Regions from separate parts of the Homo sapiens genome. Here region 1 is linked to region 2. The links come from fine-mapping of genetic effects on gene expression. A gene starts in region 2. The other region holds a variant in brackets. All regions are shown on one strand. Distances are between the middles of the regions. Region 1 overlaps SUPT20H (SPT20 homolog, SAGA complex component). Region 2 holds the start of EXOSC8 (exosome component 8).

Evidence for each region. PIP is the estimated chance that this variant, and not a neighbour inherited with it, causes the effect.
Region 1: its variant is fine-mapped to the expression of EXOSC8 in neutrophils (BLUEPRINT, PIP 0.95).

What each region holds. Positions count from the first base shown.
Region 1 is chr13:37,028,458-37,044,391 of GRCh38, forward strand. It overlaps SUPT20H (SPT20 homolog, SAGA complex component), which reads right to left. Exons shown (of 26, transcript NM_001014286.3): 7 at 15,621-15,724; 8 at 12,119-12,235; 9 at 11,948-12,001; 10 at 4,992-5,131; 11 at 3,282-3,438; 12 at 3,110-3,166; 13 at 1,308-1,379. Among named protein-coding and RNA genes, the nearest start is that of SUPT20H, 23 kb to the right of the region's middle. The variant C/CA (reference allele first, on the strand shown) is at 8,737.
Region 2 is chr13:36,990,412-37,006,345 of GRCh38, forward strand. It overlaps EXOSC8 (exosome component 8), which reads left to right and starts at 10,375. Exons shown (of 11, transcript NM_181503.3): 1 at 10,375-10,411; 2 at 11,862-11,898; 3 at 12,077-12,140; 4 at 12,523-12,596; 5 at 14,105-14,150; 6 at 15,509-15,614; 7 at 15,704-15,749. The coding sequence starts at 10,395. It overlaps ALG5 (ALG5 dolichyl-phosphate beta-glucosyltransferase), which reads right to left and starts at 8,929. Exons shown (of 10, transcript NM_013338.5): 1 at 8,824-8,929; 2 at 5,014-5,185; 3 at 4,578-4,624; 4 at 3,193-3,261. The coding sequence starts at 8,889. RefSeq lists a silencer at 8,845-9,144 and enhancers at 9,605-9,654, 10,115-10,204, 10,405-10,664, 10,885-10,944.

The DNA of each region.
Region 1 (15,934 bases), 38 kb after region 2:
GAGAATAAAGCACAGCACGGTTCTTTTCCTAAAAACTATATGGGCACTCAGCATGCATTTAGTAAAGCATTAACATATACTATGAAGTATGAACACATATGTAACAATATTAATACATCATTAAATACATTATTAGACATATTGATATACATATAATAACAATGAACATTAATCAAACACTGTTCTCAGCACTCTACAGGGACTGAAAGCTCCACCATATTTTCATGGTTGGCACTGTTATTACCTCCGTATTAGAAGTCAGGGAATTAAGCAAAGAGAGGTTAAATGAATTGCCTAGGGTCACACAGGGAGTTAGCAGTCTGTCCCTAAGCTTGCACCCCTGATCCTCATGCTGCCGTGCCTGTTTATGCTCAGGAGGGCAGTACAGGATTCTTTTTTACATGGTACTCTGGGAATGAGAGTTTAAATGGCATGTTTAATCAAGCTTAATATGGCAGAATTTCATACTAGATATATGAATTGCAAATATTAAATAATATTAAAAGGATAAAACTTTCAAAAGCAGATCTATTTATCATTTGTCTGCTTTTGCTATCACACACAAAAAACATCTGTCATCATTTCACTCCCAGAGTTCACCTAATTTAAATATTACACCTATTCCTCTCTTTTTAAGACGTTATTATTGCAATTAGGAAAACTTATAAAGAACACTTCTGTTAAAAGCCAGCCTTAGAAGAATTTATTAATTAGAAACAAAACAAATCAGAACTACCAATACGCAAACCAAAAGTAAAAATGAAGTTCTTCATTAAAATTGCTCTTTAAGGCTGGGCGCAGTGGCTCATGCCTGTAATCCCAGTACTTTGGGAGGCCAAGGTGGGCGGATCACCTGAGATCGGGAGTTCGAGACCAGCCTGGCCAACATGGCGAAACCCTGTCTCTACTAAAAATACAAAAATTAGCCAGGTGTGGTGGCAGGTGCCTGTAATCCTAGCTACTCAGGAGGCTGAGGCAGGAGAATTGCTTGGACCTGGGAAGTGGAAGAGGTTGCAGTGAGCCAAGATCCCACCTCCAGCCTGGGCGATAAGAGCCAAACTCCATCTCAAAAAATTAAAATAAAATAAAAATAAAAAATAAAAATAAAAAATTGCTGTTTAAAATGCAAAGCATACTCTGATAAACAAAATAGTTGTTTCTTCTTGTAATAAACTGAACTCGCAGAAACTAATTTAAAAAAGAAAAAAGGTCCCAAACTAATGGCAATTGCACTTTATGTTTAATAAATTCAGAGGCCAGATTAGAAATGGCATAATTAGAAACAGAGACAGGCAATGATTTCTTACATGGGCTGGCCAGACTGTTGGCTGTGAGTCATCAGATTTGATAGACTTTTCCACTTTAGCATATTTCTCCACCTAAACAATCAAATCAAGAAATACCACATAAAATAGAATCCATATCAGATAAAATGGAATCAGTATTCTGATCAAAGAGAAGAAACTAAGTAACTCGACAATACAATATACTTGTTAGCGCAAGAATTCTTAAATTACCGGTATCAACTACTTATGCTTAAGCAGTTTAAAAGTCTTCTGATGTGTATAAAACAACTTTAATAAAACCAAACCAAATAAATAAGTGTTAATAAACACAGCTGCTTTTCTAGACAGTGCCTCTTCATTTTTTTGTCCATAAGCTGATATGTTTTTCCTTTAGAGCTTTTCCTTCAGGAAAATTGGAATGTCAGAGAGATAAGGATAAAGATCTTTTCCTTTTGGCAGGCTTTTCTTGAAATAAAAGCGGTCATGTAACAGTGGGGACAAAACTGAGGGAGACTAGGGAAGGTAAAATATTAAAGCTGATCAAATTTTTTGAACGTTTTCCACTTTCTAGTCAGACTTGACCATATATTCTGTACATGTCCTAGGCATCTGTGTGAGTCAAATGTTATTATCTTACAGGCAACCACGATCTTAAGAGTAATTTAGACTTACCTGGAGCACCTATTAAAAATACAGATTTTCATGTCTGTCCCTTAGAAATCCTAAGTAAGTAGATTTTGAGTAGGGCTTGAAATCTCTATGTTTAACTGATATCCTAGGTGATTCTTCTGATTGAGCTAGACTGAGAAGCTTTGAGGGCAACTGCTACTCAATGTGTGGTCCATGGACCCCAGCATCACATAACCTAGGAGCTTGTGAGAAATGCATCTTAGCACCTCAGACTTGCTGAGTAGCAACCTACAATTTAACAAGCTCTCCAGCTGATTCGTAAGGACATTAAAGTTTGGGAAGTACTCCAGCTTGTCCTCCAAAGCTAAATTCCACCCTTCAGTATTTACACTGAAATTCTATTATCAGGCCATGTTCCTTGAAGAACTGCACATAAGCTACCAAAAGATAATATGGCTTACTTCCTTGAGCTGTATATACAGTCTACTGCTGCTTCTGGCTTTGTGCTTTGCGTAATTTCTTTTTTTTAAATCAGAAATAGTAAGAATAATGCATGTGCTAGCATGGAAAGGGTGCAACAGAAGAACAAATCTGAAAATAAAGAGTTGAGTGAATATAAAAAACAACAGAGGAGAAAGAAAAACATAGGATCACTCATCAAAATATCCCTTTTTTGTCTTCAACCATTTATAGTTCATGTATATTATGGATCAATAAAGAATACAACCCAATGTTCCTAATCTTGGTTACTTCTCTAGTATTATTAATCTTTATTTTATTTTATGTCAAATAATATTATTAATCTTCAAATTTAACCAGTTTGAGTAAACAAGCACTATTAGGAAATTTTGATGAAATATTATCAAAAAAAGAGAGATTTCACGTGATTATGTAATATACACTGTATTTTTCCAATTTTAAAATTGTTTTACTATTCCTGCTCCAAAAAACTATATTAAGGGGTTATGTTCTTTCAACTTAATGTGAAAAAAGAACAATACACAGCTTCTAAAAATCATTTTTCGATGTTTTTTGAAATAAATCATATTGTTTTTAAAAAACTTGTTTAGAGTATGATCTAAATCACTTTGTTTTTAAAGTAAGTTTTTTTTTTGTTTTCTCAAGGTATAAGCAACCGAATAGTAAAACTGAGAAACTTTATATGAAAAAAAGTAATTCATGAACTGACTTACATCTACTTCAGAAGGTATGGCCAAATTACAGGGACTCCGTTTCCACATATCTACACACTGAAAAATTAAAAACAATATACTGAAAAATTAAAAACAATATAAATATACTGAAAATGCTAAATAAGACAGGCTTTTGGGCATAATAAGCTTCATTTAAAATATATATACTTACATTTCCTGCCTTAGAAATTTTGAGGTCATAATGCTGACCTGCTTTTCTTTCCTTTCTTTTTTGTAAGAAATCAAGTAACCTCAGCTGAGGAGGAGGTGGACAATGAGATAGATCTTGCTGCCGATTCAGAGAGGATCTGGAATACCTCTTGAAACACCTGAAATATTAAGAAATTTGAACTAAACGGCACTAATAAAAGAAACTCATAATATATGTGAGTTGAAACTAGTCAGTGCTGAATATGTACAAATCGTGTTTATAGAACACTGCCACATGCCAAGCACAGTCCTAGGAACTAGGACTAGGTGAAATAAAAATGAATAGGACAAACAAAATTCCCATCACCACAGAGCTATCAAGTCCAGAGGGGGAGGAGACATTCACAAGTAAACAGATAAAATAATTTCAGATTTCAGACACCAAGAAGCAGTAAGAGAAGCAAAAGAGTACTGTGGAGAGTATGGGATAAGGAGGGCAACATTAGGGAAGGAATGGGGAGAGGGAGGGGAGGAAAAGAGTCTGAAAAAATGACATGTGAGCTGAGATAGGAATGATGAGAAGGAATTAGCTATGGAAAGATGGGAGTGAAGGGGATAACTTCCAGTTTTGGGTACAGGCATGTAAGACTCCGGAAGTTGCCACCTCATCCTAACAGGTAAAAAGCTGAATAAACAGAAAAATCAACGATTCTTCTTAGATCCATCAAAGAGATGTGGTCACAAGACAAACCACTGCCCCAAACTTGGAGAAACCAATAGGCAAATGCAGACCATCATGCCTTGCTGAAGCAGAAACCCATTAGCAGAAACCTCCTCAGGAACCAGTGCCAGGGTAGGGAACCTCAAGTATAACTGATGAATTGCTGGAGGCCTACTGTGGACATGTCTGAGAGATTCAAAACTCCAAGGGGACCTAGTCACTGGGAGCCCCCAGACTTTTGGGGGTTTTATCTCCAGGAGCTCAAAGAGGTTCTCACAGTGACTACCGGGGAAAAATCCCCTCATGTTTCCCATGGAGGGTGGGGAAAAGAAAATATTCTGAAAGATCAGGGAATGACTATTTGAAGGGACATTTTTAAAAGATGCCGAGGGAGGAATAAGCTTGGTTTGTTTCAAAAACAAAAGGTAGGTGTGCCTGGATTCAGTTTATAACTGACTTCTAAAAACTATGATCATATTTTCTCAAATCTCAAAATTACAAATTCTTTCCTTAAAGTAGGATTAACAACAATTAAATCAGTCATTCATTAGTAGGAAAATAATGAAAAAATTATTCTTTCTGTTCATATTTGATCTCAGCCTCTTTACCTTTTTGGCAAACAGACTATAAACTTAGAAAAAGTTTATTCTTTAAAAGACTGCAGAAAATGCAACAGTTCAATCTAAAGCATAGAGCATTTAAAAAAATAATAATACTATATAAAAATATATAATATGAGACCATTAAGAATCCTATTTTCAAAAAGAAAAAAAAAAATCAGAGGCTGGTGCAGTTGGTCATGCTTATATTCCCAGCTGTTTGGGAAGCCAAAGTGGGAGGATCACTTGAGGCCAAGAGTTTGAGACTAGCCTGGGCAACAAAGAGAGACCTCATCTCTACCCTTCCCCACCAAAATCGGAGCAACCATACCCTGGAGGGAAAAGATACTATAAATAGCAAAATTTATAGCTACTTGTGTCTTTTGGTTCACCCTTCCACAAAGGCAATTACCGTTTCATTGGGCGAGTGTTCATCTTTTGCTTGTTATAGAGCAGTCTGTTTGCAGTGCAGGTGACTGCTATAGAAGGATCAAGACAGAGTGGTTCAGCTGTAGCTAGGATGAGCTGGCTCTCAAGCAAAAGTTTGTCTTCCTGAAATGTGTAAGAGCATATGTCAATACCAGATTTAAGATTTTCAAATATGTAATCATATATTGCACTTAATCTAGAAATATTCCCTGGAATTCTGCTAAGGACTACAGTAAAATATGGTATTTCAAGTTCCAATGTTAGTGTGCATGTAAACTTTTAGAAACCAGACAGCATAAAGAAACTTCTAATGGAAATTCAATGCAGGTATACCTCATTTTATTGTGGTTCGCAAATATTGCACTTTTTACATATTGAAGATCTGTGGCAATTTTGCACTAAGCAAGGCTATCAGCATCATTTTCCCAACAGCACACACTTATTTTGTGTCTGTGTCACATTTTGGTAATTTTTTTTGTATCTCAAACTTTTTCATTATTATTAAATCTATTATGGTGATCTGTGATATTCAATGTGTACTAAATCAAGAAATGATGTATGTTCTCTGACAGCTTCACCGATCCACCACTCCCCAGTGTGGGATCTCCCCTATCTTTCTCCTTCTTCTCAGGACTTCTTACTTCTAGAAACATTATAATATTTAAATTAGGCAAAAAATGGCCTCTTAGTGTTCAACTGAAAGGAAGAGTCACACATCTCTCATTTTAAATCCAAAGCTAGAAATGATTAAGCTTAGTGAGAAAGGCCTATAAACAGCTACAACAGGCCAAAAGCTAGGCCTATGGTACCAGACAGTTAGCTAAGTGGTGAATGTAAAGGAAAAGTTCATAAAGGAAATTAAAAGTGCTACTCCAGTGAATATCCATAACAGATAAAAATGCAAAACAGCCTTATTGCTGATACAGAGGAAGTTTTAATGGTCTGGATAGAAGATCAAACTAGTTGCAACATTTCCTTAAGCCAAAGCCTAATCCAGAGCAAATTCCAACTCTTTTCAATTCTATGATGTGAGAGACGTGAGGAAGCTGCAGAAGAAAAGTTTGAAGCAGAAAACTGGTTCATGAGGGTTAAGAGTAGAAGCTGTCTCCATAACACAAAAGTGCAAGGTGAGGCAGCCAAGTACTGATATACAAACTGCAACAAGTTATGCAGAAGATCTAAGATAACTGATGAAGGTGGTTACCTTAAACAACAGATTTTCAAATTAAACAAGACAGCCTTATATTAGAAGAATATGCCATCCAGAACTTTCATAGCTAGAGAGAAGTCAATGTCTGGCTTCAAAGCTTCAAAGAACAGGCTGACTCTCTTGTTGGGGGTTAATGCAGCTGATGACTTGATGCTGAAGCCAATGCTTATTTGACCATTCTGAAAATCCTACAATCCTTAAGAATTACTACTCTATCAGTGCTCTATAAATGAAACAACAAAGCCTGGATGACAGCACATCTGTTTACTGCATGTTTTACTGAATATTTTAAGGCCACTGTAGAGACCTACTGCTCAGAAAAAAAAGATTCTTTCAAAAATATTACTGCTCATTAACAATGGCCTTGTCACCCAAGAGCTCTGATGGAGATGTACAAGGGGATTAATGTTTTCATAGCTGCCAACACAATATCCACTCTGCAGCCTATGGATCAAGGACTAATTTTGACTTTCAAGTCTTAATATTTAAAAAATGTATTTTGTAAGGCTTTAGCTGCCATAGATAGTGATTCCTCTGATGGATCTGGGCAAAGTAAATTAAAAACTTTCTGGAAAGGATGTGCCATTGTAGATGACACTAAGAACATGCATGATTCATGGGAGGAGGTCAAAATAGAAACATTAATATGAGTTTGGGAGAAGTTGATTCCAACCTTCATGGATGACTCCAAGGGGTTCAAGACTTCAGGACAAGAAATCACTGCAGATGTGGTGATAGCAAGAGAACTACAATTAGAAGTAGAGAGCCTGAAGATGTGACTGAACCACTATAATCTCATGATCAAACTTGAATGGATGAGTTGCTTCTTATGGATGACCATATACAGTGTTTTTTTTTTTTTTGAGTCAGAGTCTCCCTCTGTCGCCCAGGCTAGAGTGCAATGGCGTGATCCAGGCTCACTGCAACCTTCACCTCCTGGGTTCAAGCAATTCTTGAATTGCTACTCGGCCTAAGCCTCCCGAGTAGCTGGGATTACAGGCAACTGCCACCATGCCCAGCTAATTTTTGTATTTTTAGTAGAGACAGGGTTTCACCGTATTGGCCAGGCTGGTCTCGAACTGCTGACCTTGTGATCCGCCTGCTTCGGCCTCCCAAAAGTGCTGGGATTACAGGCACAAGCCATGGCACCTGGCAAAAGTGGTTTCTTGAGATAGACTCTATTCTTGGCTGTGAACATTGTTGAAATGACAACGTAATATTTATACTACTACATAAACTTAGTTGATAATGCAGCAGCAACAGGGTTTTAGAGGACTAACTCCAATTCTGAAAGAAGTTCTACTGTAGGGTAAAACTGTATCACATGCTATAGAGAACTCTTTCATGAAAGAAACAATCAATGGGGCAAACTTCACTGTTGTCTTTCAAAAAACTGCCACTGCCATCTCAATCTGTCAGATCCTGATCTGTCAGCAGTCATTAATATCCAGGCAATACCTTCCAGAAGCAAAAAGATTATGACTCCCTAAAGGTTCAGATGATCATTAGCATTTTTTAGCAATAAAGTATTTTTGAATTAATGTATATAGATTTTTTTTTAAACATAATGCTATGGCACCCTTAATAGACTACAGTACAGTTGACTCCTGAACAACATGGATTTGAACTATGCAGGTCCACTTAAACTGGAGTTTTTTTTTTTTCTTTGAGACGGAGTCTTGCTCTGTCGCCAGGTTGGAGTGCAGTGGTGCGATCTCAGCTCACCGCAACCTCCACCTCCTAGGTTCAAACAGTTCTCCTGCCTCAGCTTCCTGAGTAGCTGGGACTACAAGCGCACGCCACCATGTCCAGCTAATTTCTGTATTTTTAGAGACGGGGTTTCACCATGTTGGCCGGGATGGTCTCGATCTCCTGCCCTCATGATCCACCCGCCTCAGCCTCCCAAAGTGCTGGAATTACAGGTGTGAGCCACTGCGACCAGCTAGGAGATTTTTTTCAATACAAGTTACACTGAGTGTGCATGCCTCTTCTGCCTCCCCTTCCATCTTCTTTATCTCTTTGCACCCCTGAGACAGCAAGATGAACTTTTCCTCTTCCTCCTCCTTGGCCTACTCAATGTGAAGATGATGAGGATGAAGACCTTTAATATGATATACTTACTGAATAGTAAACATATTTTCTCTTAGGATTTTCTTAATAATGTTTTCTTTTCTTTCTAACAGTTAATTCTAAGAATACAGAGCACAATACACATAACATACAAAATACATGTTAATCGCCAGGCATGGTGGCTCACATCTGTAATCCCAGTACTTTGGGAGTCCGAGGCGGGCAGAACGCTTGAGCTCAGGAGTTCGAGATCAGCCTGGGCAACACAGTGAAATCCTGTCTCTACCAAAAATAAAAAAAAATTAGCTGGGCATGGTGGCATGCACCTATAGTCCCAGCTACTCAGGAGGCCGAGGTGGGAGGATCACTTGAGCCTAGGAGGCAGAGATTGCAGTGAGCTGAGATTGTGCCAATGCACTGCAACCTGAGTTGCAACCTGACTCTGCCT[C/CA]AAAAAAAAAAAAAAAAAATCCAGTAAGGCTTCCCAGCCAACAGTAGGTATTAGTAGTTAAGTATTAGAGGAGTCAGAAGTTATACATGGGTTTTTGACTGCACAAGGGCCACTGCCCCTAACCTCTGTGTTGTTCAAGGTCAACTATATAGTGTAAATGTAACCTTTTTATAGACTAGGAAACCAAAAAGTTCATGTGACTTGCTTTATTGCAGTATTTGCTTTACGGCAGTGCTCTGGAATCAAACCCACAGTAACTCCGAGGTATGACTATAATTTGTAGAGCACGGAATGGTCAGGTTGTAAGAGTGGCTACTCATTAATTCAAGAAACTATCTGAGCACCTATGATGTGTTAGGCACCTTTCCAGGAACTGGGGATAAGGTAGTGAGCAAAACAAAACCCTCTGCTCTCACAAAACCTATAGGGTCATAAAGGGTTATGGCATTTTTCAGTAACTGTGAAGTAACAGTCCTATCCTATACTCAACTCAACTACATTACAAGAATAAAAATGACTCTGCTAATATTGTGTGAACTCTATATACCCAATTCCAAACATACAGGCTCTTTACTATTATCACATAACATATTTTACTGAATCCTATTATTTTGCTTAACCTCTGAAATATCTTGATAACTAAGGCTATTTTTTTTAAAAAAGTGAATCAATTAATAATATTGCTAAATAAGAATTTGTTAGAATTAACCAGTTGCTTTCTCATGTCCATTAACTAGATCTGGCTGGTTTCTTCCTCATTGTGTCACTTAAGAGTTTATTTTATTCACTGAATTCCTATAAACTGCTAGTTACAACTAGTGGCTTGATTTAATATGGGCTCTTTTTTTTTTTTTTGGACAAGAGTTCTTTATTGGTACTATTACTACTGTTGTGTACTGTCTCTTGCATCAAACCAGGAGGTACACAATAATTGACTGTCTCATCTTCAATCAGTGGGTTTGATCAGATTTCTACATTATAAAATTTCCCATTAACCTATCATCTAATGGTTTTCACATCCAAGAAATACTGCTGTCTAGATTCACTACTTCATTAAGACTTTCAAACTTTTATTTTTTAAAAGTCTATCATTTCTTTTGCACCTATTAGCTGGAAATTTTCCTAAGAATTTTCCCTCAGTTACTTGGCTGCCTAAAATACAGTTCATAACAAGAAGGGCAGGATAAATATTATATTCTCTCCTTTATCAATCTTCAGAGTAAGAATCTGATGCCCTAGCAAACTCTGATGGTAACCAATGAGTTTTTCTGTTTTCTAATATTCTTTTAATAGCTTTTAATCTTTTTGTAGATGACAACATTATAGCCCAAACCAAAACACAATACTTGGTAGTTACTGATGAACTGAAGCTTAGTTTATAATCACATGTCACAGAAAGGATAACTACCATTACTGATATTTTCTTTTGACTTAGTAATTATTCCTCACTATAGTCAGGCAACTGAACACTTTTGTGAGTGGACATCTCATATACAAGGGGTCTTTAAAAAGTTTATGAAAAATGAGTATTAAGAAAAAACTATACATAGGTTTCAAAACTTTTTGCACCAAAATAAACATGTACTAAGCTGTTATAACATGTCTGAACAGAACCTAGTTTGAAACACTAAGAAGGATAAGACATCAGTTTGAAAACAGCCTTTACCAGAGCAACAGGAATTCTGCTAAAACTGAAGCAAGAACAAACATCAAATTGATGGTGAAGCTTGAGTGGAAGAATTGTGAAATCACTGATGCTTTTTGAAAAGTTTATGAGAAGAATGCCTCAAAGAAAGCAGCAGTTTACAAATGGGTAACTTGTTTTAAGAAGGGACAAGACTATGTTGAAGACGAAGCCTGCAGCAGCAGATCTTCCACATCAATTTACGAGGAAAAAAATTCATTTTGTTTGTAACCTAACTGAAGAGGACCAATGATTAACAGCAGAAACAATTGCCAACACTATAGGCCTCTCAACTGGTTCAGCCTGAATAATTTTGACTGAAAAATTAAAGTTGAGTAAACTTTCCACTCGATGGGTACCAAAACCACTGCATCCCGATCAGCTGCAAAAGCAGAGCTTTCAATAGAAATTTTCAACAAGTAGGACCAAGATACTAAAGCATTCTTTCCAGTATAATCCTGAAGATAGTAAAGCACAATTAAGGCAATGGCCACCAAGAGGCAGAAGTGATTCAGTCAAAGCAAAAGCAGACAGATGAAGAGCAAAGATCATGGAAACAGTTTTCTGGGATGCTCAAGACATTTTGCTTGTTGACTTTCTGAAGGAACAAAGAATGATAACGTGCTTATTATGAGTGTTTTGAGAAAGTTAGCCAAAGCTTCGGCAGAAAAATGCCTGGGAAAGCTTCACTAGAGACTTCTGCACCACAATGCCTCTACTCATTCCTCTCATCAAAAAAGAGAAATTTTGTAAGAGTTTTGATGGGAAACCATTAGGTATGCACCTTACAGTCCAGATTTGGCTCCTTCTGACTTCTTTTTGTTTCCTAATCTTAAAAAAAAAAAGTTTAAAAAGTACCCATTTTTCTTCAGTTAATAATGTAGAAAAGATTGCATTGATATGGTTCAGTTCCCAGGACCCTCAGTTCTTCAGGGGTGGACTAAATAAATGGTTGATATCATTTACAAGCATCTTGAACTTGATGGAGCTTATATTGAGAAGAAAAGTTTATATTTTTTATTATTATCTTTTAATTCCAGTTTTCCACAAACTTTCTGAAGTCCCCTCATATAACACTGAGCCAGAACTGGAGGGGTTAACTGGTTATTCTCAGGGGTAAGAGAGTTCCCCTCATTTCAAGGCAACCAGTATAAATGGCAAAGAAAGATAGGCTAGGCTAGGGTTTAGAAACTTGAATTATTTGAAAAAAAAAACCAGTATCTATTTGTAACCATGGTAAAAACAAAACATTTTTCTTCTGTTTGAGAGGAGATAAAGAACTAAGTTTTATCTCATTGAATATATTAGGCCAGCTTGACCTTAAAATGATCTTAGGCAACTTGAGGGATTACTACACATATAAAGAGACCCTTAACTTCTAGATCTTATAAAGGAATACCAGCTTTTCACATAAAGCATCAAACTTAATTATTGAATAAAAATAAGCAGAAAATCACTTTTGCTTAATGATAATTTTTTTTCATCCTATATTTTGCCTGTTTGAGATTAAAAAACAAAACAACTAACCTGGGTCCATTTGTGGTTATCACTTGTTATTGAATGTACATCACAAATTAAAGTCTAGAAGAAATAAAAATTTAAAAAACTTATTAATCTATGCACAAACATATGAAGAATTCGATAAATAAAACTCCCAACTAAAATCTAAAATAGTATTTCTTAATTAAACATCCTTACCTGCATTGTTGGACGTAAGAGAATGTGCCGACTTTGGTAACCAGGAGATTTCATGTTACTGGACTGCCTGTAGTCACGTATTTCTGCTATGACACATCCGCAATGAAAAATATTAACCTGTTTGGGCAAAAATACGTAAACGTCATTTTTTTTTCCAAAAGCCTAAATAAGTGGGTTTATATCAAACATTTCGCATTCTTTACATTCATGCAACATTTCTGGCCACTCATGTATGTACTCTTCAGTAGATTTCCTTGGTAGATTTAACACTATGTAAACCTTTTCAGAGGAAGTATTTCATGTTCATCACTATGACACAAGAAGCAATTTAAAACTATTTAATAGTTTCTAATTATAGATTGACTTTGGCATCTACCAAGTCAACAGTTTGACTTTTGGCATTTACATACTATTATGTTACAGATCCTTGGAACTGCTGTTCTTCTGCAGCTCACAGGCTTACTGTTACATTTCACTAACTTTGTCATTACTATAAAGTTTATCATTGTTATAAATTGCCAACCAACCTTGCCAGTGTTTTAGCTTCTAGATATAACTTCTATATTTGCTCTGCTAAAATTTTCAGAAATATAATTTTGCCCTTAGCCTTTATTAATAAGAGGGAAGCTAAATATAAAATTCAAATGAAAAATAGTTTTTCAGGCTGGGTGCAGTAGCTCATGCCTGTAATCCCAGCTTTGGGAGGCCGAGGCGGGTGGATCACAAGGTCAGGAGATCGAGACCATCCTGGCTAACATGGTGAAACTGCGTCTCTACTAAAAATACAAAAAAATTAGCTGGGTGTGGTGGCGAGCGCCTGTAGTCCCAGCTACTCAGGAGGCTGAGGCAGGAGAATGGCATGAACCCAGGCGGTGGGGCTTGCAGTGAGCCGAGATTGGGCCACTGCATTCCAGCCTGGGTGACAGAACGAGACTCCACCTCAAAAAAAAAAAAAAAGAAAAATAGTTTTTCAGTCCTTTCTATGCTCAAATGTAAGAACTATTATCATCGAAGTCTTGCTAGTTATGACTTGCCATGGTCACTCATAGTATGTTTTTCACCCATTCAGAACTTTTAGTGGGTACTGTGGTCTCCATGTTTTGTCATTCTTATTGTCATTCTTTTAAATAAATATTTACTGAGCAACTACAATGCCTACTATGTGCTAGGCACTATCCAGGTACAGCTTCACAGATACAGTAGTCAGACAACATTTGCTCTCAGTTGTGGGAAGACAGGCAATAAACATGTAAACAGAACAAAGTAATTTTAGATAGTGATGAATTCTATAAAGGAAATCAAATAGGGAAGGGCTAATCTGGATTGTATGTGCAGATAGAAACCTTAGGTTTTACCTAAGATCTGAATCACAAGAAACGGCCAGACACTTCAGGGACAGATCATTCCAGACAGAGGGAATAACATATGAGAAGTTCTTACTGTAGGAACAAGCTTGGAGTGTTTTATTGTGGAAATGAGACAAGGATGGATGGAATGCAGCGAGTGAGGATGAGATCTAGAAGATGAAGACAAACAGGAAAGCAAAGGTTTTGTTCAGAGCACTGGGCACGATCATGTATCTTAAAGAGAGACTGGCATTTGCTGATGGACTGAATGTGGAAGGTAAGGACAGAGTCATCTGTTAGACTGAAGAGACTGGTGATAAAACTGGTTTGGGAGGTAAAATAAAGCTCTGTTTTTGTCATGTTAAATTTGAGGAACCTATTATATATCCAAGAAAATATGTAAGTTAGGAGCTTGGTGGAATGGCCATGGTGAGGCATATAAGCAATAGACTAAGTAACATTTTAAAAACCCATGAAACTGGCTGAAATCATTCAGGGAGAATATTACTAAAGAAAAACAGAGAGCCAAGGACTGAACCTGAAAACACACATGTTTATGGATGGAACAGGGATTATAGTAAAAAAGACCGAAGGATTAGAGAAAGCAGAGGAAAACCAGGAAAATGATGTCTCAGAAGTCAACAGAAAGGCATTTCAAGCAGGACGCAGTTATATCCACTGATCTTTGCTAAGAGGCCAATTAAGAAGAGAACAGAAAAGTGACCAATTATTCAGTATATGAAGATCACTGGTAACTCTGACAAATGCAGCCTCTGCAGAACGATGTCATGATGCCAAATGAGATAGGTGGTGGAAAGAATGGGATCTGCAAAAGAGGAAATGACTATAAATTCTTTGAGTAGCGTGGCTGTCAAGAGTAACAAGAGCAGTAGTTGGAGAAGGATATGAGGTCAAGGGAGGATTTTTTTAAAATTTGAGACATACAGGTTAAGAATCCTTTATCTGAAGTGCTTCAGACCAGAAGCATTTCAGAGTTGGAAATATTTGCATTATACTTAGGTTAAGCAGCCCTAATCAAAAAACCTGAAATCGGAAATGTTCCAATTAGCATTTCTTTTAAGTGTCAGTCAGTGCTCAGATTTTGGAACACTGTGGATTTCAAATTTTCAGATTTGAGATGCTCAACCTGTAACACAGTATGCTTGCATTCTGCATTTAATAGAGAAAGAGAAATAGAAAAAAAGAGAGGTTATAATTTTAAGTCCTTGAGAAGGAAGGGGAGGATCCAGAAAACAAGTGGAGGGGATGGATGTCTATAAACAGTATACATCAACTATTTTAACGGGAAGGCAGGCAGATATGAAGAGAGAGGTAGGGATGCTAGTCGACTGGTGCTAGGAGGAAACGAGAGTTCTCATGTGATGTCTTCTTTTTCCTCAGTAGAGTACACAGTATGGCTGGGGTTAAGTTAAGGCAGTAAGAAGAAAGTAGAACAGGGCAAGGGAGTGCTTACCTAGGCAAGCTATGAACAGAAGTACAGATGTAAAGGCCAGTTTCTGGCCCCCAAGTGAAAAACTTCATAAATATTCAAAGTAGTTTCTTTCATAATTTCTTGATTGTAACTATAGGGAGATTTCCAATTGATGAGCTAATTGTTCTAACTATTTTAGAAGAACTACGTCTCTACGTTTCAGTATACCCTAAAGGTTAAATATCCGACAATAAGCCCATTTCCAGATAGCTATATATGTCTCATTTCATCTTCTATTATTATTAGTTTTAGAGACAGGGTCTTGCTCTATCACCCACGCTGGAGTGCAGTGGTGCAATCACTGCAATTCTGGTTTTCCTCTTCCTTCTCTAATCCTTCCTTCTCTAATCCTGCAGTGGTACAGGAGGATCACTTGAGCCCAGGGGTTTGAGACTGTAGTGAGCTCAAACTCCTGGGCTCAAGTGATCCTCCTGCCTTAGCCTCCCAAAGTGCTGGGATTACAGGCATCATGAGCCACCAAAGCCCAGCCTGATTTCATGTTCTAAAGGCTGTTGGGAACAGTGATAGAAATTAAATATCATCTGTCATGAAACATCATGTAGTCGTTTATATACATATATGTATACATACATAAAAATGTGACATATATATATCATATACATATAACAAATATAAAGACATTTTAAAGACAAAAATTTTGTACCTGAGATTTTTCTAGGAGATCAACCAAAATAGGAGGTAATTCTTCTGCATCCAAATATTCAAGCAACTCTCCTTCTTCATAGGGCAGTCGAATGGTCTCGGAATCTTAATTTAAAACATGAAGTTTGAAAATGATCATGCTCACTGAAAGCTTAGCTGTATAATTCAAATGGCTTTTCAAAGAACTATATATAATAAAACCAAAAGGCATTTCAACCAAGCAAGGATCAAAAAAAATAAAAATAAAAAACAAAACCAAAAGGCCCTCCTAATGTCCTTCTTAAGGGGGAAAAAAAAAACCTAACACATTATGAA
Region 2 (15,934 bases):
ACTGTTCCCAAGTTTTCACCAATAACTCCTTTTGCTTGGCTTGCTCCTTAAATGCTGATAATCCACACAAGGACTGACTCTACACTGTACATACAGCTAATGGGAAACCCCTGGCCATCTTCTCTTCTCAACATAAAAGCTCACTGGGAGTCACTGCATGGGCTTAATTATAGCTTATATTTATGAATCTCACGTCTGTTTAGAGCCCAGACTCTTCTCTCCTGTGTCACCTAGTTATATATTGGATAAATAAAAACTCCAGAATTTCATTCATCTCCTCCTCCCAACTTCTGCTCAGTCTACATTCCTTGCTGCAGCAAATGGCATCATCATCTACTAAGTTGCTCAAATTGAAAACCTGAGAATCATCTTCCATTTCTATCACCCATTACAATTCACTGGCTACTATAACTCACTGACTGATTTGTAAAATCCCTCTCAAATCCATGCTATCCTCACACCTTCCTGACCTAGTTCAGGGCCTTATCCCCTAAAGTCCCCACATCTCTACCCTGACTCCCTAATTCATTCCTAAAGTTATACGAGTAGCCTTTCTAATATGGAAATCAGTTCACATAAGCCCTGTTCAAACACCCTCAGTGATGACTTATGGCTTCTAAGCATCACATATGAGTTCCTTATCATAGCATAGGAGATCCTTTGTGATTCAGCCTTCACCTTTTTAGCCAGCTTCTGAGGCTGCCCCATTAGTACCGTGAACATTAGCAGTATTTGAGATTTCCAGACCATACCACGGTCTTACACTTGTATGCCTTTTCTCAGAACACTGTCTTCCAGCTTCCTCACCTGTCAGGCCAGCTTAAGACTCAGCCAAACACCATTTCTCTTTTCTAGCCTCCATGCCCATCCCCACCTTCCCCCGGGAAAAAGAAAAGTATAATTCTAATAGCAATGTGTACTACTGAAGCATTTTCTCATTCAACTATTACTTTACTCATCACAATGCAACTGTAAATGTCAGCTACTTAAAGGCAAAGATTTTTATTTCTGGTATCTGGCACATAGCTGAAATCTATCAGTTTCAACCAGCAAATGCAGCCATGGTCCTGTTGTAGCACTGTTAACTAGCTGCCAAACCAGCAAACAGTGCCTCCTTCTTTGCTGTTATGGCCCCAATAATGCAGTGACAACTGTGAAGCCCTAGGGGATGAACCATGATTGGTCTAACTCCTCTTTGCTGAGTACTTTTGCAGCCTCCCTGCAGGCTTTGGTGGTCATGTCACTAAGTTCTAGCTTGTGAACTTTGGGTGTGGGCTTTAGTAGAGGGAGGGGTGAGGACTTCTGATAAAGATTTTCGTTCCTAGTTAAAAAGGAGAGATGCACGCAGAGATGATTCTTTTTTTTTGACACAGGGTCTTGCTCTGCTACCCAGGCTGGAGTTCAGTCGTGCGATCACAGCTCACTGTAACCTTGAACTCTTGCGCTCAAGCAGTCCTCCCACCCTCCCACCTTGGCCTCCCAAAGTGTTGGGATTACGGGCATGAACCACCATGCCCAGCCCAGAGATGATTCTTAAAGTCCTGGCTGTCCCTTACTACTCCAGGACATGTAATATTTGCAGCTGTGGCCATTTTGTGATGAAGGAATGCGTGAGACTGAAAATGATATGGATCTAGCAACCTGATCCTGTTTAAATGCTAAGCCAACTCTGGAATCAACTATTTCTAGACTTCCTGGCAGATGAGATAATTAAACGTCTTTATTATCTAAGCCACTCTATGATATAGTTCCTAATTGATAAAAATGTCTAACACATAGTGCTCTAATTATTTGATGCATATTTCCAGTATTATTAATAGATGTGAACTCCTTCAAGGTAGAAAGTGGTCTTTACATCTTTGTATTTTAGTGCCAGTCAGAACTCTCGACTTCTGCTTAACAGCTGAAGAAATGTGTTCAAAGAACAGTTATTTGTGCTGTAGATGTTTACTCTGGAATGGCACAATACTTGAGACTGCAAAACCAAGAAGATAAAGTCATTATATAAGTAGCTAAGTGAACTAATAAGACTTTACTATGTTAGGATGAAAAGCTCCCTCTAGAGTATGGTATCTAGCTTCAAGGAATATAACATTGTTAAAGCCACAACTGTTTGGAATGGATGCACAATGAAGCTTTACAGCATGGCCTTTAGTATACAGGGCAGCAGCTGTCACTCGGCCACCATTTGTGAACTGAGTTCCTACTGAGTGCCTACTCGCCTTTTTGGTATGTTGTTTGAGGATATAATAAACATCACTGTACAACTGCAGTATTCTCTTGTACTATACCTTGTGCCCCCTTGGTCTGAAACGCCTCAAGAACAAGAGCCGTATCTAAAATTTTCCTCACACCCCTCAGACTGTAAGACATTAACAGGGAATCTATAAATACTTAACTTAGCGAAAACTGGTTTGTTTTAAATAAAAACTTCTACTAAATATAATTTCAACTTTCTACTTCCTCCCAACCTTGGGAGCAGTGGGGCCAATTGCTAACCCCTCCCTTGCTTGTCCTCCCTGGGAGGGCATCCCTGATCCTTCCAGCAGAGCAGCTGGCCACTCACAGGTCAAGGGCCACCAAAAAAGTGCTCCTCAGGAGAAGATGCACAGCCTCAGCTGGGTCTAGGCTACCTCTATAATCTCAACAGCAAGTGTCCAATGTGGCTTTCCATGCCATTCCCTTCATGTATCACTAAACTGCTGAGATGGCTTGTGTTCATAACTTTCACATCATACTATTCAAAGTGCAGCACTTACCCTTCCTAAGCCAGATCCTGCCAATGCTCTCTGTGCATGTGAAAGGACACACCTGCTTCCCAGGGGCTGGTACGAAAGCAGCTTTCTATTGGCGTGACTGCTTTAGAAATTATAAGGCAAGATGGAGCATAAAGAAACTGTGCTTAGGGAAAAAGGAAGCACAAATTGGTAGGCAACGAAGGTTCCTACCCTAAAGGCCAGGAGGAACTGTGCGCGGGCATGTTTCTTCCCTATCTGGCGATCTTCAAAGCTTCCCTGGTCTTATGGAGAAGTTCCATAAATGAAATCTGTTTTTTCTGCTATCTAGACTATAACAATGGAGAGTGTTAGGCACAGCTTTAGGGTCCCCTGGTGAATGAAAGTGAGATTTCACATGTGCAAAATTATTCTCTATTTTCTAACTATTGTCAATTCTAAAAGCAAGTGTATTTACCTTTGAGGTCTGATCTTTACTGCCATCATCAACTACTATCACTTCATAAGTGAACGCAGGATCTCGTTTCTGCAAGAAACAAAAATAAAGTAATACAATTTGGCATAACTGCCATAAAGTATTCTAATCAAATCACCAGTAATTTAAAAAACAACTGCTTTAGTGTTGATACATATAAATTTGAATATAAATATTAGTGCACAAACCGCATAAAATAAAAAGGCTAAGTAAAAAGAGAGAGAGAGATCCTGGGTAGAGGTGGAGAGTGAATATTGACTCAATCTCTCCATGTCACCTTGCTGTTCCCCAGTCTGCCCTGTACCTTGGTGGTGGAAGAAGCCAGGTACTTGTGGTGCTATAGCACATTTGAGAGGGTACAGGTGTGTAAGAAAAAAGCTCCTGAGGTTTGAAGTCAGAGAGGGCAGATTCCAGCTTGGCTGCAGCATTTCTTAGCCTAATGACCTTGGGCAACTTAACTTTTTGGGCCTATTTTCTGATTAAAAAAAGAGAACAGAAAAACCTACTCTATGTGGCTGGTGTGAAGATTACACGTAATTGAAGAGGTAGAAGCCTCATACATATTAAAGGCTCAATTCCTTTCTTCTTTTCTCTAAATTGAATGTTTGAAGTTGGTAATAAGGTAATACAGCCCTTTCTCTTTCAGTGAATCTTCTATTTCCCCTTTATACAAAAAATCTAAAAGCAAAGTAAATCAAAACAATTTTTTTTTAAAAAGAACTCACTTAATTCTTAATCCCTCCAAGGGGATTCCAATGGCAGCTAATGTTACAAAAGAAGGTTGTGTATTACTTCTCTTCTCCTTATGTAGGGAAAACAGGAAGAAAATGTGAGGGGAGACTCTTGAGAATATTGAAGAAATACAAAATAATTTCAATGTAAGTGTGTCTTTTAAAAATATCTTTTTTCTGTTCATTCAGACTTAGTTTTTCTGTTTATTCAAACCCAGTTAACCAAAAAATAAAAAAAGAGAGAAGAGAATAAAAGTTAACAGCAAAAACAGCAACAATACACCTTTTCTTACAAGTCACAAAAGTAAAAACAGCATTGTGGCATCATACAAAGTCTGCAGACATACACTGTCACTCAATTTTAAATATATCATCAAGCAAGACAGGATTAAAATGGGTAGGAGGGTACAGAAACAGAAATTTTCGCTTCCTGGTTTGTCCTGGGTCAACGACCTGCCTCTGGAGGTAGCATGCTACGTGCCGGGCTTATGGATAGCAACAAGCAAGCAGCAGGTGGCCCAGCGATCGGGGTGCTGCCAGGACTGCCTCTCACAGTGCATCTGGCTTGGGGTCCACAATTGGTGACCTGGTCTAGTTTTAATTGGAGATATCATATTAAAAGAGAAAACATGATACCTGTCTCTTCTCTAGATAGCTCAGAGCTTCATCCATCATCACAGGCACTTGAAGAAAAAAATATATTAAAAATCACTTTTGAAAATGATTTTCCAAGCCCGGCACATTCAGCTTACATACAGAAAAAAGTCCCAATAATCTAACAAGCCCCTCTGGTACTTTCCCAATGGTCATTCCCATCTGAAATCCTGCCTTCTGTCCACAATGTGCTTATTACCTCTCTAGAACATTCCAGTCCCGCTGCCTCATGATGCTGCTCCTATTCATGAGAGCAAATATTCACTTCCCTCTCTGCCGAACTACAACAATTATCAACTGTGTGCTCAACACAGCCCACATCTATTAATGTTTTGGCAAAGACAGTGAAGTCAAATACTTTAAATTTCCTTTTCTTTTCCAAACTACCCTTTACCAAAAAAATCAAAACAGGGCTTACACCGTTTTTCTTCATTGTATGAAGGCACAACGACAGAAAGTTGTTTGGTAGGTGAGTCCCATATGCTGGGTAAAGTTTCTTTCTGGCCTTTGGCATTTAAGAAGAATTTCTCTTCTTCATGTCGATGGAGTGCTGGCATTTTTGTAGCAGTTGTAAATGCAACGATGGAAATCTAAAAGCAGACATACATGTCTTTTACAAAACAGAAATTATGTTTTGCTGACTTTTCTGTATTTATGTTAGAATACATCATCTACTTTTCTTTTAGTTGAATACTCACTCTCAGGTTTTAGTTCATTAACAATGGTCTAGAGGTGACTCCAAAATTAGACAATAGTGAGTCCCCTACTTATGAACGAATTACTGTCCTTTTTTCCATCAGTAAGGTGCTGATGCCTTAGGAGGCTCTGTCTCTTCCCAGTCATCATTCGCCAGGCCTCCACCATCCCAGCTACAATAAAGGTCAGTCACTACAGGAAGACCAGTCTACTCTCAGGTGCCCTAAAACCCTGATCCTTAGCGTGTCTACATGCATAGAGACACACACACATATAGTAAGGTCCTATCGCTACTTGGAATCTATATGTGACAGGACAAGTCCATTTTGCAGTTGGAACATGCGGGGTGAGGGCACACTTTCCATCCAGGACCAGACAGACCCAAGATATAAAAGGAAGATTCCCCAGACTACCAAGTAGGGACCAACAATGTTTAAGAATATGTTTTTGACACTTAACTCGAATTTGAATTCAGAATACAGCATTTACTGAAGTATCTAACTTACAGGCTCCCTTCCATATGCACTTGGGAGCTAAGCTTTGGAAATAACCATTGTTTTTACATTGTTTCTATTGGTACACTTTCTGCTTTCAAAACAGTCTTTAAATTTTTGGAATGCTATTCATTTGTAATTTAATGATCAATTTGAAGACATTATCAAATTGTCATTGTCATCAGCTCCTGAGGTTTGATCTTTGAGGTCTGATCTTTACTGCCATCATCAACTACTATCACTTCAGAGATTATAAGATTATAATCAAAGATTATCAAAGATTATAAGGGCTGTGCTGAAAGGACAAAGTAGTCAACCTGAATGGGCTCTCAGTGGCCTATGATGCAAGAATCTGATCGTCCTCCCACTTCCCCCCTGCCAAAAAAAATTACTGCAATGGATCAAACCATGAAAAATACTGTAAATCATAAATTTGCAATGATACTAAAGACAAAAACTGGGTAAGATGCAGGAAGGATCTCATTTCAAAAATTTGCCTTTTGCGTTTTATATGTATGAAAGGTATTTTAGGGTAAATGAATAGCTGAGGATGAGATTTCTTTCATTACAAAACTCTAGGTAATAAATGAAGGATACAATGAGAATATTTCACTTTGCAACCCGCAATGAAATAAAGCATTTAGGTAATGATCCTCAATGACTACTAAAACCATTAGGCTGATGACAAACTTTATAAACTGGTGGGTCTGGCTGGCAACATTTGAAACCACAGATCCATCTTAACACCAGAGACAAATGGCCATTACATGACTCCTGATGAGACACAAGAGAAAGGAAGAAGCATCACTCACAATTTTTTCTTGATTAAAAAACACATCGAGTATGTATGTGATCAGGTCTCTCCATCCTAACTACCAGTTTATAGAAAATTTGAGATAGAAGATGTTAAAAGGCATTAAGGGGATGCAATCAAAGAAATCCAAATTGTGAGAAGTTCTACAGGACAAATGATCATATTAAAGACAAGGAAAAAGGCCGGGCGCGGTGGCTCATGTCTGTAATCCCAGAAGTTTGGGAGGCCGAGGAGGGTGGATCACCTGAGTTCAGGAGTTCGAGACCAGCCTGGCCAACATGGCGAAACCCCATCTCTATTAAAAGTACAAAAATTAACCGGGAGTGGTGGTAGGCGCCTGTAATCCCAGCTACTCAGGAGGCTGAGGCAGGAGAATTGCTTGAGGGCAGAGGTTGCAGTGAGCCAAGATCACACCACTGCACTCCAGCCTGGGTGACAAGAGCCAGACTCCGTCTCAAAAAAAAAAAAAAAAAAAAAAGACAAGGAAAAGAAAAAAAGGGGGAGGAGAAACTGTCAACTGATTAAGAGACTCAAGACATCAACAGAGTACAATGTGTGGCACTTGTTTGGATCCTGATTGGAACAAACAGACATATATACTGAGACATATATGAGACAAGTGAGGGCAAGTGAACTGAGGGGGCATTTGAAATCACAGAATAAATTTAAATCTGTGACCACTTTATTGTGGTATTTTAAAAAGAAGGACCTTATCTGTTAGAAATAAATGCTGAGGATTTAAAGATAAAATGTCTTCGAGTTGTTTTAAAATAATTCAGAAAGGAGGTGAGACTGTGAGTAATGGAGAGTGGATACATATGAAGACAGGATGAGGTTTTGAAAAATTATTTTTTTAATGATTTCTTGCTCTGGCATTTAAAAAACCTAAGTTTCACTAGTTGTGCAACATTTGAGTACACGAGCTCATTTCTCCAACATGTTTCCTCACCAGTAAAATAATGCTAATGATAACATATATGTCACAGTGTTAAAGATTTAATAACTCCTATTAAACCAAGTGCAACACAACATATAGTAAGTACTACAATCAATAAATGGTAGCTCTTATCACTTCAAGCTAGTGGGAACAAATACCGTCAGTACAATCCCATAAAATCTGTGCAAAAGACCCAAAGTAAGGCAGCTTCAATCTAAGAATGTGTGAATCCACTCCCCGCCCGCACCCCGCCAAAAATCAATCAATCAATCAATCAATCCTGGTTTGCTCAAAAACTTGAAAAAACAAAAAAGCCCTAAACCCTGAAATCTCTACTAGTTAGGGCAAGAGAGGACTCCTCTCTCACCCAGATACTATCAACAAAGAAGTAAGGATGCATTACATTTTATCTAAACTGTAAATTTATACAACCTCTGGAAAGATGGCAGAGTGGCCTTCCTGGCAGTGCTGTCTAGGTGGCTAATCTGAATGTCAAGGAAGCTGAAATCCTCTCCACTTACTAACTAGAGGGCAGGCTCATTCCAAGGTGTGCGGGAGAGAGTTCGCCAATTTTCTACCACTTAACAATCAGCAAGTGTTTACAATGTTTTTGTGTTTCGAGAGCAAGGGCAAAGACAATCGAGTTTGCATTCTATCGTCCTGCCTTGTTTAGGGGCAGTATATTTAGGGTGCTTAATTCTGGGACACAATGCGACCCCGGACAAGGCGCCTGAGGCCTGTCTCTCTCGCTCACCCTGCGTCCCTAGTGGGTCTCATCGATCCACGCATTTATTCCCATTTGTAACAGATGGCTGCCGTCAAGGCTCCGTCACCCCTATTTGCTTAACCACATCAGCCAAGGGAGCAGGCTAGGGAGCACACCCCTTCTGGGGGCTCGAGACCTCCCTGGGTGGAGCAGAACTGCAGCGGCTGCAGGTCCCGGAGAGTCTGGGAGAGGTCGAGGTTGACAGAGGAGGTGGGTAGGGGGCGCGGGCGCCAGGGGCGATGGAAGCGGCGATGATGCCAGGCCGGGTGGGTGCGCTCCAGTGTGAAAAAACTTACAAGTCTCTGAGCACACAAAGAGATAAGATTCCAAGGGAAAATTAAAGAACCGAAGAAAAGGAGAGTGAAACTCCAGGAAACTCCGAGGTCAGGAATTTGGGGGAATCTAGGGGAAAAGGGACTTCTCCGAGAACTGGTAGCGCGGAGGAGGGGACGCCTGAGGAGCCGCAGTCTCCAGGAGAGCGGTAAGCCCCGGCCTGCGCGGGTTCCCATCCCTGTTCTCACCAGTACGAGGGCTGCGGCCGCCAGCGCCGCGCCGAGCACCGCCAGCTGCAACAGAAGCGGAGCCATTCTCCATGCCGTGGCAGCCCGCCCAATCCCGCACCTCCACACAGGCGGAAGCGCGCCCGCGCGACCCGGCCCCGCCGCCAGAGAGGTCGCGCCCGCTGGCCGCAGCGCCCCCGCGTGGCGAGGCGGAGAAAACGCCGCTCTCGTGCCCTCGGCGCCCAGTCGGTGGAGAGGAGCGCTAGGTTCCACAGCGGGGCGCCAGGTTTATCAAGTATGCAAGACGTCTACTTAATTTGAATTTCAGATTAAAAAACTAATCATGTTTTTAACAGCCTTATTAAGATAGCCACATACCATACGACTCATCCAGTTACAGGTTTCTGGTTTATTACATTAGTTTTTATAAACTGTGGTAAAATAAAAAGTTGCCATTTTAATCATTTTAAGTTTACAATAGTGAGTGGCATTAATTACATACATACTGTGCAACCATCACCACTATCTATCTGTAAAGCCTTCCCAGCTCCCTCCAGGTTCTGGCAACAACTAATTGCATGCTCTATTTGGGGCATACTCATGCTTTAAAAAAAAAAAAACCCACAAAAAAACAAAAACAAAAAACAAAAAAACCACGCTGTGTTTATCAGACATTCAAATTTAACGTGGTATCCTGTATTTTATCTGGTAACCCCACCTAGGAGGGAGATGGCAGCCTTGAGCACGACACAGTCTACAACACAAGGTGATGCTTAGGAGCCCTCAGCTCCGGGACCTGCAGAGCAGAACGTGGTGCGGACAATGAGCGCACAGAAAGTTCAGGTTTCTCGGCCGAGCGCCGTGGCTCACGCCTGTAATCCCAGCACTTTGGGAGGACGAGGCGGGCGGATCACAAGGTCAGGAGATCGAGACCATCCTGGCTAACACGGTGAAACCCCGTCTGTACTAAAAATACAAAAAATTAGCGGGGCGCGGTGGCGGGCGTCTGTAGTTCCAGCTACTCGGGAGGCTGAGGCAGGAGAATGGCGTGAACCCGGGAGGCGGAGCTTGCAGTGAGCCGAGATCGCGCCACTGCACTCCAGCCTGGACGACAGAGCGAGACTCTGTCTCAAAAAAAAAAAAAAAAAAAGTTCAGGTTTCTCATGTGTTGGAGCACGGAGCCCTTGACCAGTGAAGAGGCAAGGCCAGGGCTGAGCCTAAGTCACAGGCAGAAAAAAGACGCAGAAACATTGGAATAACGCTCCACACGCACTGCTTGATTCTGCGCTAGAAACCCTGTTATCTCCGAACTGTTGGTGTTATTCTGAGTCACAGCACCAGCTCTTTTATAAAGAGGGAGACCCGCTCCTTCTTTAACAGCAGATTCGTCAAAATACGTCCAAGGCAAGGAAACCTAGAAAGGCGTCTGGGCAGGGGAAAGTCGATGCGAGGGCGGGCCAGGGACCTTTCGTCGCGTCCCCACCTTGGCATTTCCCGTGGCGTGAGCGGCCCCGGCATCCGTGTCGAAAGTGCGGCGGCGGAACAGGCGCGCAGGAGAGGAGCGGCGCAGGCGCAGACGCGCGGGCGGGAAGATGGCGGCTGGGTTCAAGTGAGTGTTGGCGGGTGGCGGGTAGAGTTCTGTACCCTGGCGGACGGCAGCTTCCTTTAACTCTTAGCTGGGATTCTCTCACCTGGAGGCCGACCCCGTTGGGGTGCCATTTCCTTCCTCGTCGAGGCAGACGATGGGCGGGAGGACCTGGAGGTTGTCACAGTGAAAAGAAAGGGCTTCTTCCTCAGTGAGACGGGAGATGAAAGGACTCTGTAGAGTTCCATACCCGCTGCGAGCGCTCGTGAGCGTGGTGTGTAGTGAACGTGCAGTCCCAGGAGACATAGTTGTAATCTTTTAAAGATTGTGGCCGGGCGCGGCGGTTCACGCCTGTAATCCCAGCACTTTGGAGGACGAGGCGGGCGGATCACCTGACGTCAGGAGTTCGAGACCAGCCTGGTGTACATGGTGAAACACTGTCTCTAATAAAAATATAAAAATTAGCCGGGCGTGGTGGCGGGCGCCTGTAGTCCCAGCTACTCAGGAGGCTGAGGCAGGAGAATCGCTTGAACCCGGGAGGCAGAGGTTGTAGTGAGCCGAGATCGCGCCACTGCACTCCAGCCTGGGCGACAGAGTGAGACTCTGTCAGAATCAATCAATCAAGATTGTTGCATCAGAACCACATACCGCCTGCTTCTCCCTCTCCCGTAATTTATTTCTAAAAGGATCATGCCTCGTTTGGAAGGTTTTTGTGTGTGTGAAGCCAGTGGACTTTCTTAAAGTTTTTAAAAAATGGATAAAATAAATAGGATTCCAAAGGAAATCCATTATGTTGAAATAGTTATCTATGAGTATAAACTCCGAAGACACGATATAGTAGTATATATACTTGGTTTAAAATTAACCTTCGTAAACAAGATCTAGTGGCGAGACTAGTAGTAACTCCTGGGATTTCAAAGTAACGGTGAGCCTGAACATACCTTACACAGCTAAAGGGTGCAAACGAAAACATCTGTGGTCTCCGTGGTTGTTAAAGTTGCAGGTACTGCTAATGTTACTATGGCTTATTGCTTACAGTCATAATTGAAGAATATGCTAAATTTCACTTACAGTGAAAATAAAGATGTACCTTTTTGTTTCCTGAGTTATCTAGTAAGAGGTTAACTATTCATGATCACTAGATTATTAAAATAATCTTTTTTCATGATCACTAGATCACTCTGAATCCTTGTTTCAGAGCAAGAACGACATGATTCTTTTGACACAGATTGAGCTTTTAAAGAGCTCACTCAAAGGGCTTTTAGACGCCAATCTTCTAATCGTTTATGGCAGAGTTAAGGACAGCAATTGAATGTGATTGCTACTACAAGGATTTTTACTTTCTAGAATTACTTTTAGTTAAAAAGTTGTGGAGATTTATGCTGCATCACCACACTTAAGATCTTTGCCAATTTCTGGATTTATGTTAAGATTCATCAGTTTATCTCAGATATATTTTTAACACGTGTTTCAGAACCGTGGAACCTCTGGAGTATTACAGGAGATTTCTGGTGAGTAAAGGTTATGTACATGTTATGCGTTTTGATAACGAGCTGCTTTTAAAGATGAATTTCAAGTAATTTAAATTAATCCATTTGAAGTAACATTTAATGTGTGTGTAAAACTTGTGATAGATGTGTAAAATATGTAATAGGTATAATCTATTTTTATATAAACATATTTATTTAGAAAGAGAACTGCCGTCCTGATGGAAGAGAACTTGGTGAATTCAGAACCACAACTGTCAACATCGGTAAGGATGTATTTTCCACTTTCAACTGTATGATATTCCCAAGTTTTAGTCTATGAACCAGCCAAACAGTTTTTCACCCAAATTCTTTGTCTAAAGGATTTGATGATTTTTTTTGTCAAGAGATTTTTATCCGTACAAAAGCCCTGTAACTAAATGAAAAATGATTAACACAAATTCAAGGACAGGTGAATAATTATTTAAACACTAATTTAAAATAGTTATGTAAAAATCAATTATTCTAACTTGAAATATTCATAAGCAACTGAGAGGGGTAGCAAGATAATCGTACACAGCAAACTAAAACACTTAATTTTAATTATTATGTGGATAATTTTGTAGCTGTTTTCCTTTTATGAACCTTTCATTTTGCTTATCTTTTCAGGTTCAATTAGTACCGCAGATGGTTCTGCTTTAGTGAAGTTGGGAAATACTACAGTAATCTGTGGAGTTAAAGCAGTAAGTCTAAATATGTCCTATTGAGATTTGAGTTACAAAGTTAGCTTTATTTATTAGATTGTAATATACACCTGTAATTCTACTCTTGATTTGGTAGTTGGGTGTCAATTTTTAATGTTTAATTTCCCAAGAGCTTTCACTATGAGTGTTAGATAATATGACCCAAGTTTAATGACTAAGTGAACAATTGTCAAATGTAGCAAAATGAAACAACTTTTAAAATCTGAGTCACCATTTTAAAAAAATTGTTATATCATTTGAGACATTAACAGATTTTTGGTGACATCCTTTTAGCCAGTGATGACATGTAATCTGTGTAAATGTGTAGAAAATTGAAATTGTTGAAAAGAAAAATTTGAGGGAATACTGGCTACCATTTACTGAGTACTTGCTATGTTCCAGACACCTTTTTAGGTGCTTTACAGAATTATCCACTTTAATGCCTATAACAATCATTTGTTACTTGTCTTCACCTCCTGTTTTACAGATGACTTTCAGTAACCTGTCCAGGTACATAAGACTCATAAGTAAAACTTAGACATAAATCTGACTCCAAAGCCTGTGCTTCTTTGACTACAGTATACCCTGTGTTATTTAACCTCAGTTGAGATTCTTCTTTCGTAAACCTGGAGTGATGTATAACAGTAAGATTTGAGAACTTGCTCCTTGTCAGGTTTTATGCCTGGGATTTAACAGGTCTATCTCATTTGGCCCTTATTAACAGTCCCTAGGAGTAGACACTATTTTCTTCCCATTTGACAAGATGAGGAGTTTAAGGTAAGAGGTTAAATAACTTGCCTGAAGTCTCTCAGCCAGTAAGTATGGCTCTGACATTTGAACTGGCTTAGTAATTGCAGAGCATTTGCTTTTTTTTTTTTTTTTGAGACGGAGTCTTGCTCTGTCGCCCAGGCTGGAGTGCAGTGGCACGATGTCAGCTCACTGCAAGTTCCGTCTCCTGGGTTGAAGTGATTCTCCTGCCTCAGCCTCCCAAGTAGCTGGGATTACAGGCGCCCGCCACCATGCCTGGCTAATTTTTGTATTTTTAGTAGAGACGGGGTTTTGCCATCTTGGCCAGGCTGGTCTCAAACTCCTGACCTCAGGTGATCCGCCCGCCTCTGTGTCCCAAAGTGCTGGGATTACCGGTGTGAGCCACCGCGCCCAGCTGAGCTTTTGCTCTTTACCACTAAAGCAGCAGTTCCTAAATCTTGCTCTATCATCTGGAGAACAAATTAAGATTCTTGGCTAGTAGTTGGGGGCACAAACCCAGTTACTATTTTTTAAAAGATCTCCAGGTAATCTTGCCGAGCAGCACTGTAGTGTAGTCCACTGTACTGTAGTGCCTTCTTATCTTGTAGAGCTATTGTGAGGATCAGCACCAATGTCCGTAGAGGCCCTGACACAATTCCCTAAGCTGATATTTGATAGAGCCTTCCATAACTGATTGCTAAATTGTCTTCATAATTTTTCAGTAGCTTCTTTCAATAGGAAACATTTCTTTGCTACTATAGGAATTTGCAGCACCATCAACAGATGCCCCTGATAAAGGATACGTTGGTAAGTTAAATGGTTTTGTAATTTTAATACAAATACTTTTAACACATTTAATAATTTTTAGTTAAGTCCTAGTTAAGTTGATGTAAAGAAAATTATTCCTAATATTCGGAAATATTTATGAATAAAACAAATTCCTCAAAAGTTTTCCGTGTGTTAGTAAAAGATAGCATAATAGCAGGATATAGAATTTCATAAATTTAACCTTTATCAAACTTGTTTGCTCAATTTTTGTTTATACATTCATAAGTTACTAACCAAGAAAATAGAATTTTGGCTGGGTGTGGTGACTCACACCTATAATACCAGGATTTTGGGAGGCCAAGACAGCAGGATCGCTTCAGCCCAGCAGTTCAAGACCAGCCTGGGAAACAAAGGAGACCCCGTATCTACAAAAAAAATCAAGTTAGCTGGGTGTGCCAGTGCACACCTGTGTCCCAGCTACTTGGGAGGCTGAAGCAGGAGGATTGCTTGAGCCTGGGAGGTTGAGGCTACAATGAACTATAATTGTGTCACTGCATTCAAGCCTGAGTGACAGAGTGAAACCCTGTTTCAAAAGAAAAAAAAAATAGAATGGAATTTTTTTAAGTCAAAGAACTGTCATTGCACACCTTTTGTTTCCATAAAGATTCTTTGCTTTATACAACTGCTATTTTTTTCTTGCCTTGGAACCATCTGTTCTTTATGGTAGGAACCAACATTTTTTTTAAATGAGAAAAACAGTTGGATGTTAGCAGAGGGGCTATATATACTTCAGTTACAGATTGAGGTATTTTGAAAGATACCAGGAAAACTCGTAAAGGATTTAGAATTGAGGTCTAAAATAGATTTTTTAAAAAGGCATATGGGGGAAAAATGTCAGAAAAATAGAAATTTCATGGCTGGGAGTCTTAGAGAGACCAAACAGAATATAACTATAATGTTACAATGTATTCTACTCAGAAGAGCCTGTCCATGGCCACAGTTGCCTTTACTGTGGATTGATAATACCTTTAACACTTCAGTAATCCATAAATTGAAAAGTTTAGGCCGGGCATGGTGGCTCACACCTGTAACCTCAGCACTTTGCGAGGCTGAGGCGGGCGGATCACGAGGTCAGGCGATCGAGACCATCTTGGCCAATATGGTAAAACCCTGTCTACTAAAATACAAAAAATTAGCCGGGCGTGGTGGCGTGTGCCTGTAATCTCAGCTACTTGGGAGGCTGAGGCAAGGAAATCTCTTGAACCTGGGAGGTAGAGGTTGCAGTAAGCTGAGATCGCACCAATGCACTCCAGCCTGGCAACAGAGCAAGACTCCATCTCAAAAAAAAAAAAAAAAAAAAAAAGGTTTAGTTCATAGCTGCAGAGTGTTTCTTTCAGTTCCTAATGTGGATCTACCACCCCTGTGTTCATCGAGATTCCGGTCTGGACCTCCTGGAGAAGAGGCCCAAGTGGCTAGCCAGTTCATTGCAGATGTCATTGAAAAGTAAGAGCACCATGATAAAATTTTATTACAATTCATTTTCAGATAGTTTTGGGCTTTTCATTTACTTTGCTCTTTGTCATTAAATCAAGTTCACAGATAATTCAGAAAGAGGACTTATGCATTTCTCCAGGAAAGGTAAGAGGAATAGAGAAGCTATAAGTTCTTATTAATTCTGAAGGGATTTTTTTTTTGTGGGGGAAAGTGAACAAGGAAATTAAAACCACCAATCAAAGTAGCTTTAAATATGGATGTCTTACAGATTTTAGAGATTCAGTAATTTCTTACTCTATAATTCTCTAAATGAACCATATTGTTTATAA